Linked DNA regions of Homo sapiens: region 2 is linked to region 1. The links come from fine-mapping of genetic effects on gene expression. A gene starts in region 1. The other region holds a variant in brackets. All regions are shown on one strand. Distances are from middle to middle.

The links.
Region 2: its variant is fine-mapped to the expression of LINC01880 in atrial appendage (GTEx, PIP above 0.99).

What each region holds. Positions count from the first base shown.
Region 1 is chr2:242,082,119-242,086,518 of GRCh38, reverse strand. LINC01880 (long intergenic non-protein coding RNA 1880) reads left to right here and starts at 2,381. Exons shown (of 4, transcript NR_146651.1): 1 at 2,381-2,423.
Region 2 is chr2:242,164,179-242,168,578 of GRCh38, reverse strand. No RefSeq gene overlaps it. Among named protein-coding and RNA genes, the nearest start is that of LINC01881, 78 kb to the right of the region's middle. The variant A/G (reference allele first, on the strand shown) is at 2,591.

The sequences.
Region 1 (4,400 bases):
ACACAAGAGCCCAGAGAGTAACAGCAGGACACACAGAGAAATAGCAGGAACCCACAGAGTAACATCAGAGTCCACAGAGTAATATCAGAACCCACAGAGTAAAAACAGGACCCACAGTGTAACATCAGAGCCCACAGAGTAACAGCAGGAATTCACAGAGTAACATCAGAACCCATAGTGTAATAGCAGAGCCTACAGAGTAACAGCAGGAACCCACAGAGTAATAGCAGGAACTCAGAGTAACAGCAGAAACCTACAGAACAGGATCAGAAACCCATGGAGTAACAGCAGGAAGCCATGAAGCAGTTCTGTCCAACTTAGGTCAGCATATTCATGGTCTTGGGTCTTCTTTGTGTGTGCTTTCTACCAGGACTGGGCTTAGCTCTGTGCTTGTGAAGAGTAACCCACTCAGTGCCCTCTGAAATTTCGCCACTGGAGGAGGAGAAAAACCCCAGAGGGGCGGGGAGAAACGCTTTTCAAAACACATGGTGCAGCTGGAGATTGTGGTGCAGTTGCCCAGGCAGAAGGCTCGGCAGGGGGAAGTAGTGACCAGGAGGGAGGTGCCTCCTTAACCACAGAGATTTTTTGGCAACCAACTTATTGAAAAATCACGTTTTAAAATTTTCTTTAAGTCAAACCCTACAGAACCTAAGGAGCTGGCTCCTCCTGGCAGGAAGCTGGGAGAGTGCTGGTCACAGTGCACCAGGTGCCCCCTGCCTCACAGGGGCTTAGGGTGGTGGTGAGCACAGGGGCCCCACGCTTCTCCAATGCACACCACACAGTCGTCTCCTCTGACCTTCCCAAATGCTGCACGGACAAGTGTTTGTAGTCCCTAACTCTCAGGACAATGTAGACTTGGTATACCTTCGGGCACGGGGAATCCCATCCTTCTTCCTGTTCCTGCCGCTCTGAAGCATGTGGTGTATGTTTAATGGGGATTTTACACAATATGGGAAGACCACTTCTGCTTTCTATGCAGTGATAATACTGCAATAAGAAAAAATGAACCAAGCCACCAAAACAAAACAGTACCACCTGATGCAGAACTAGGAGGGAAACACAGCAGTGTCTCAGAGCTAATGCAGCAGCCAGGCACCACGACGGTGTCATGGGTACAAGGAGGAGGTGTCTCAGAGCTAATGCTCTGTGCTGACAGCAGCCAGGCACCACGACGGTGCCATGGGTACAAGGAGGAGGTGTCTCAGAGCTAATGCTCTGTGCTGACAGCAGCCAGGCACCACGACGGTGTCATGGGTACAAGGAGGAGGTGTCTCAGAGCTAATGCTCTGTGCTGACAGCAGCCAGGCACCATGACGGTGCCATGGGTACAAGGAGGAGGTGTCTCAGAGCTAATGCTCTGTGCTGACAGCAGCCAGGCACCACGACGGTGTCATGGGTACAAGGAGGAGGTGTCTCAGAGCTAATGCTCTGTGCTGACAGCAGCCAGGCACCACGACGGTGTCATGGGTACAAGGAGGAGGTGTCTCAGAGCTAATGCTCTGTGCTGACAGCAGCCAGGCACCACGACGGTGCCATGGGTACAAGGAGGAGGTGTCTCAGAGCTAATGCTCTGTGCTGACAGCAGCCAGGCACCACGACGGTGTCATGGGTACAAGGAGGAGGTGTCTCAGAGCTAATGCTCTGTGCTGACAGCAGCCAGGCACCACGACGGTGTCATGGGTACAAGGAGGAGGTGTCTCAGAGCTAATGCTCTGTGCTGACAGCAGCCAGGCACCACGATGGTGCCATGGGTACAAGGAGGAGGTGCCTGGTTTTCGGGAGCTTGCCATCTGAACAGACCCAAGGTGGCAAATACACAGTGAGAAAATGGGGCCATGAGTGCTGTAATTACCTACAGAATGTTTAGGGGGACTGGGAGCAAAAACAATCCCCTCTTTCAGAAACCAATCCTGGAAGGTGCTGGAAGGTTGTACTAGCTGTGAAAGTCAGAGGCCACCAGGCAGCTATCGTGAGACCAAAGGCAGTAGTCAGCTCAGGCAAGCCGGTTTCCTTATTTATGTCAAATTCCTCAGTCTTGGGTCTCCTTATCTTTTAAATAAGGAGTTAGAATAGAATTTGAGGGCTGTTCACTCAGGCATCCATGGTGGCTGCAGCATAAGGAGTGTGTGGTGTCAGGATGGGAAGGGCAACATGGAGACTGCATGGCCATTGACGTCTGAAAGTCTCTGGTTGCCAAAAAGAATCTATCTACAACAGCATTCATCCTGACAGCAGCCAACAGGCAGCCTAGACCTGGCATGCCACAGCTCCTCTAGGCTCTGAACCCCTCTCAGCTGAGCCTGGTAGATGCCAGCTGACCGGCTGCAGCCCCTGAGTAGAGGTTGGCTGTCCTAGCAATAGAGTAGGGCGGGGGCACAGCAGACATGGGACCATCATCTGGATTCCTAGACGTGCAACTGCAAGTGAGTACATAACCTCCTGAGCCCCAGCTCTCACCTGAAAGCTGAGTTAGGCGCACACACAGGAAGGCAGAGATGGGTCCAGGGCTGGGCTTCTGGTTCCTCTACTCAAACTCTGCTGCTCCCTGCCCCTCTGCCATCCCTGCAAGCTCCTCACTGACCATGCTTGTCTCAAGCGTTCTCTCTTCCTCCTGACCTCCTGGGGACTTCATAAATCCAGTATCTTTTTAAAATAATCTATTATTTTAGGCTCAGGGCTACATGTACAGGTTTGCTATACAGGTAAACTCATGTCTGGGGGTTTGTTGTACAGATTATTTCATCACCCTACATGTACAGGTTTGCTATGTAGGTAAACTCATGTCTGGGGGGTTTGTTGTACAGATTATTTCATCACCCTACATGTACAGGTTTGCTATACAAGTAAACTCATGTCTGGGGGGTTTGTTGTACAGATTATTTCATCACCCTACATGTACAGGTTTGCTATACAAGTAAACTCATGTCTGGGGGGTTTGTTGTACAGATTATTTCATCACCCTACATGTACAGGTTTGCTATACAAGTAAACTCATGTCTGGGGGGTTTGTTGTACAGATTATTTCATCACCCTACATGTACAGGTTTGCTATACAGGTAAACTCATGTCTGGGGGTTTGTTGTACAGATTATTTCATCACCCTACATGTACAGGTTTGCTATACAGGTAAACTCATGTCTGGGGGGTTTGTTGTACAGATTATTTCATCACCCTACATGTACAGGTTTGCTATACAGGTAAACTCATGTCTGGGGGTTTGTTGTACAGATTATTTCATCACCCTACATGTACAGGTTTGCTATACAGGTAAACTCATGTCTGGGGGGTTTGTTGTACAGATTATTTCATCACCCTACATGTACAGGTTTGCTATGTAGGTAAACTCATGTCTGGGGGGTTTGTTGTACAGATTATTTCATCACCCTACATGTACAGGTTTGCTATACAGGTAAACTCATGTCTGGGGGTTTGTTGGACAGATTATTTCATCACCCTACATGTACAGGTTTGCTATGCAGGTAAACTCATGTCTGGGGGTTTGTTGTACAGATTATTTCATCACCCTACATGTACAGGTTTGCTATACAGGTAAACTCATGTCTGGGGGTTTGTTGTACAGATTATTTCATCACCCTACATGTACAGGTTTGCTATACAGGTAAACTCATGTCTGGGGGGTTTGTTGTACAGATTATTTCATCACCCTACATGTACAGGTTTGCTGTGTAGGTAAACTCATGTCTGGGGGGTTTGTTGTACAGATTATTTCATCACCCTACATGTACAGGTTTGCTATACAGGTAAACTCATGTCTGGGGGTTTGTTGGACAGATTATTTCATCACCCTACATGTACAGGTTTGCTATGTAGGTAAACTCATGTCTGGGGGGTTTGTTGTACAGATTATTTCATCACCCTACATGTACAGGTTTGCTATACAGGTAAACTCATGTCTGGGGGTTTGTTGTACAGATTATTTCATCACCCTACATGTACAGGTTTGCTATGTAGGTAAACTCATGTCTGGGGGTTTGTTGTACAGATTATTTCATCACCCTACATGTACAGGTTTGCTATACAGGTAAACTCATGTCTGGGGGGTTTGTTGTACAGATTATTTCATCACCCTACATGTACAGGTTTGCTATACAGGTAAACTCATGTCTGGGGGGTTTGTTGTACAGATTATTTCATCACCCTACATGTACAGGTTTGCTATGTAGGTAAACTCATGTCTGGGGGGTTTGTTGTACAGATTATTTCATCACCCAGGTATTAGCCTAGTACGCAATAGATAGTCTTTCTGATCCTCTCCCTCCTCCCACCCTCCAGCCTCAAGTAGGCCCCAGTATGTGTTGTTCCCCTCTGTGTGTCCATGTGTTCTCATAATTTAGGATATGAGGATAATGGCCTCCAGTCCCATCTATGTTCCTGCAGAA
Region 2 (4,400 bases), 82 kb before region 1:
CATGTGAAGAGAGCTCCAGGCTGAGTTAAATTCAAGTGTTTTCTTAAAGATAACAGTGAGCACGATATGTTATTGGGGTGGGTGTGGGATAAATAAGGTATATCAGGTGAGAATAATAAGAAACTCAACTTTAAAAGAAGGTGCTGATTTGGACTGTAGACAGATTCAACTGCCCTGCTTAGCATTTGCGATTGTGATGGATGAACTAATTAAGAGCCCAAAATGAAAGCTTGGGATAAATATCTGAGGGTGTCTAATATCCCAGTTTTTCATCCTAGAATGGGCAGAGTCCTTGACCCCATTCTAGGGAGACTTCCAAAAGAAAAAAGACCTGCATTTCTTCAACAACCCACATAGAGAGACTTTCCTGCACTTTTGACCTGTGGCTAACACTCCTTACCTTTCATTCTGTCATCAGTGTTTTAGGGAAACACCTTTAACTCTCTACGATTTACAGGTTATTAAGTGGCGCTTACAATTCCCTCCAGAGGTGAAAAAGACATAATGATGGTGTCTGAGCTCACAGCAGCAAGCAGGCGTGTGTGCTCAGCAGCCACGTGGCTCATCTGCTAGGAGCTTGCTAAATACGATGTTCTACAACATTGCTTAACACAAGGGGAGACGCTCCTGACTTGGAGAGTTTAATTGCTCACCTACTTCTTTTTCTGCCCTCTTGGGCTTCTAAAATGAAAAGAACCCTGGGGTGATAAAGTGAGTCAAAGGGGTACCAGGTGCATCACAGCAAAATAGATTCCTAAAAAATCCCTGGCCTAAGATGATACCCTTGGCTGGATACGTTTGAATGTGCTGATAGTGGACATGGTAGAGTGAAGGTGGTTGAAATGTTCATATTAAAGAACTTCCACCCAGATTGCAAGAAAAGAGAGAGGAATGGAGATGGCAGCACGAGTCCCTACAATAAAAGCAGATGTTTTGAGACCGGTTATATTTCTTCCGACAAAAATTAAAGACAGAAACCAAAGTTTAGCCTGAGGCTACAATTAATTGGGCAATAAGCCGAAGGCACATATGGCATAGACAGATTTAAACATTTCTCCCTTATATTAATACAAATACTAAAATTACAAATACTTTGATTCCAAATAAAACAAATATTTAAAAAATTTAATGAATAAACACTGGGGTCTACAGTAGTATTTGAAGGAGATCTCACAAACAGGTTTGGTTTTTGAAGGTTAGAACTGGTGGTCTAGAGAATTCATTTCATTCCAGAGAGAGAAAGAGAGGAATTTCTTGGGTTCCTTCAGGAATGTGTCTAGCTTTGCCTCATGTTTGTTTGAACGATGGATACGGCAGAAGAAAGCATGAGGATTTCACAGATTTAAGGTGCAAAAAGTCACTGGGTTCTCTAAGAAGTCTGGGATTCTTCTGCTGCAAAAATAAGTTTGTTGAGAAAAAATGAGTTGGAGGAGGCTGTTATTGAAGTGAAGCAGAATTGTTTTTACTAATCTGCTTATTACCCACTCTGCAGTGTGGAAACAAATTATTCATGCACAAGGTCCTCTTACTGTTCCTAGAATGCAGTGGAAAGAGAACAGATTAGTTTTTCTCACTCAGAACACAACCCCTAGAAACATCCTACCTCAGATGAGATATTGCCTAATTATTTTCAAAGGACAGTGAAAAATTATGGATGTAATGTTTGCTGCAAAATTAATACATGCTAGAAACAGAAGCATCTGGGTCACAGCTATATTAGAGCTATCTGTGTTCCCCTGTCACTGAGATTAAAACAAAAATGTCCAATACAATCACTCACAGCATGGGAGAGGGGAAGTTGAAGGATGGAAAGGCCAGGCATAAAAGGATTTCAGAATTTCCGTCCATAAGGAAGTAGCTTTGTGCATTGTCTGTTACTGTGTGCAAGGTGAAGTTTGGAGAATGAAAACGTGCAGTAACAACGGCTCCTTTGTCCCTCTCACCTCTCCAGATACCAAGTTTCAGACATGTTGCATTTTAGTTGAAAGGTTGATATAATTTTTTTTAAAGAACACTTGCGGTGTTTGAAGTGACAAAGGCTGCTGTGACAAAAAAGCAGGGAAAGGGATTTTTTTTAAAAAGCAAACAACAACAACAAAAACCCCACAGAAAAGCAAACAACAAACAAACAAAAAACAGAGGAAGAAGTTGAACACCCTGGGCTGTGACTACTTCCAGGAAGGGGCTACAAGAGGCAGTTGGAAATTCTATTTGCTTTGCAACTGTGGGTCTTCCAGCCTGCTTCCTTTCTAAAGTATATTACTCTGCTTTTGGTTCATGAAATTATCCATTTCTGTTTTCTGGAACAGCTATGTATTTTCTTTATCTATCATCTATCTATCTACCTGCCTATCATCTATCTATCTATTTACTATCTATCTTTTCTACCTTTCGCTATCAAGAGCTTGGGTCAAGCAGGATAGAATTCCAGTGTATATTCACTCTACCATTTAAAACAAGAGCTCTTGTAGGCATTCTCCATCACATCATAAACCTGAGCTTTCTAAAACAGGGTGTGGCAAACTACCATGCATGGACCAGGTCTGACACAGTCTGCGTTTGTAAGTAAAGTTGTAATGGGACACAGCCA[A/G]TACATGTGTTAAAAAACGTCTCTGGTTACTTTCATGGTATAATGGAAGACCTGAGTCATTAAGAGAGAGACCATATGGCTTGGAAAACTTAAAATATTTAACATTTAGCCCTTTGCAGAAAATATTTGCTGACTCTTGTTTTAAGAGATCTCTGTTTAGAATGCTACCTATTGCCTTCTGGATAGAATCACAACTCTTTACCACGATCAACACAGCTTCAGCCCTGCTTCTATATCCAGCCTCATCTATTTCTGCTCCTCCTCCTTATTTTCCTTCCGGACATGCTGATGAATTGTCAGCTTCCCAGATGTGTGAGAATCTCTCCTCCCTTCCCAGCATTCTCATGCTCTCCCTCTGCCTCTCAAGAACTTCCTGCCCCATCTCTCATGACAAATCCCTTCTTCATTCTTTAAGATGCAGCCCCTTTGCTCCTTCCTTAAAGATGTCTATCTGGCTCTATTTTGGGTGACATGCTCCTTCTGCATCTCCCAGAGCCACCCTGTGTGTGTCAGCTACAGCATTTCTTTGCATCTCTGTGTCATATATCACCAAATCTGCCTAACCTTGAGTGAGTCACTGCATGACAACTTCAGACTCCACCAGCATTGTCCCCACCAATCAATTATTTTCAACCATTTAAAAATGTAAAAATCATTCTTGCTTCATGGGCCATACAGAAACAGATGGTGGGCAGAGTTGGCCCAGGGGCAGACCACTGTTTGCTGACCACTGCCACACTGTCTTAATCAAGGCAGCTTTTATGGTGAGCCATGGTATCTAGTAATTTCTCCCATTTTTGTCCCTTTTAAGGGCCCTTACTTGGCCCTTTGCATTTCCATATAAATTTTATAATTAATTTGCAGATGTCCACAAAAAAGCCTATTAGAATTTTAATGGGACAGCTAATGCTAGAAGGGTAATTTTAGGAGAAACAAGAGATGCTTATAAGTTGTGTGTGTGTGTGTGTGAGAGAGAGAGAGAGAGACACAGAGAGAGAGAAAGAGACAGAGAGAGAGAGAGACAGACAGAGACAGAGAGAGACAGGGTTTCACTCTTGCCCAGGCTGGAATGCAACGGTGCAATCATGGCTCACTGTAGCCTCGACCTCCTAGGCTTAAGCAATCCTCCCACATCAGCCTTCCAAGGAGCCAAGACTACAAATGTATACCAACACACCTACCTAATTTTTTTGACTTTTAGTAGAGATGGGGTTTCACCATGTTGCCCAGGCTGGTCTCAAATTCCTGGGCTCAAGTGATCCACCCACCTTGGCCTCCCAAAGTACTGGGATTATGGGTATGAGCCACCATGCCTGGCCTTTTAAAAAAGTTTGAGACAGGGTCTCACTCTGTCACCCAGGGTGGAGTGCAGTGGTGTGATCATGGCTCACTGTAGCCTCAACCTCCTGGCTCAAGTGATCCTACCACCTCAGTCTTCCATGTAGCTGGGACTACAGCTGCGTGCCACCACATCTGGCTCATTTTTTTTTTCTTTTTTAAGTAGAGACAGGGACTTGCTATGTTGCCCAGGCTAGTCTCAAACTCCTAAGCACAAGCGATCCTCCCGCCTCGGCCCCTGAAAGTGCTGGGATTGCAGGCATGAGCCACCACACCCGGCCAAAAGTTGCTTTTGAGGAGTTATTGCTGTGTGGATGTGATATAACCCTTTCTGTCATCTCTTCACAAAACTTTCTGTAAAACATAAAAATCACCTGGACCTTCAGAGATGAGTTTGTTTATTTTTTTATTTTTTTAAAAATTGCTAATTCACAGAACATGGAGATGAGTATGTTTTGAAGGCTTGGAAGCA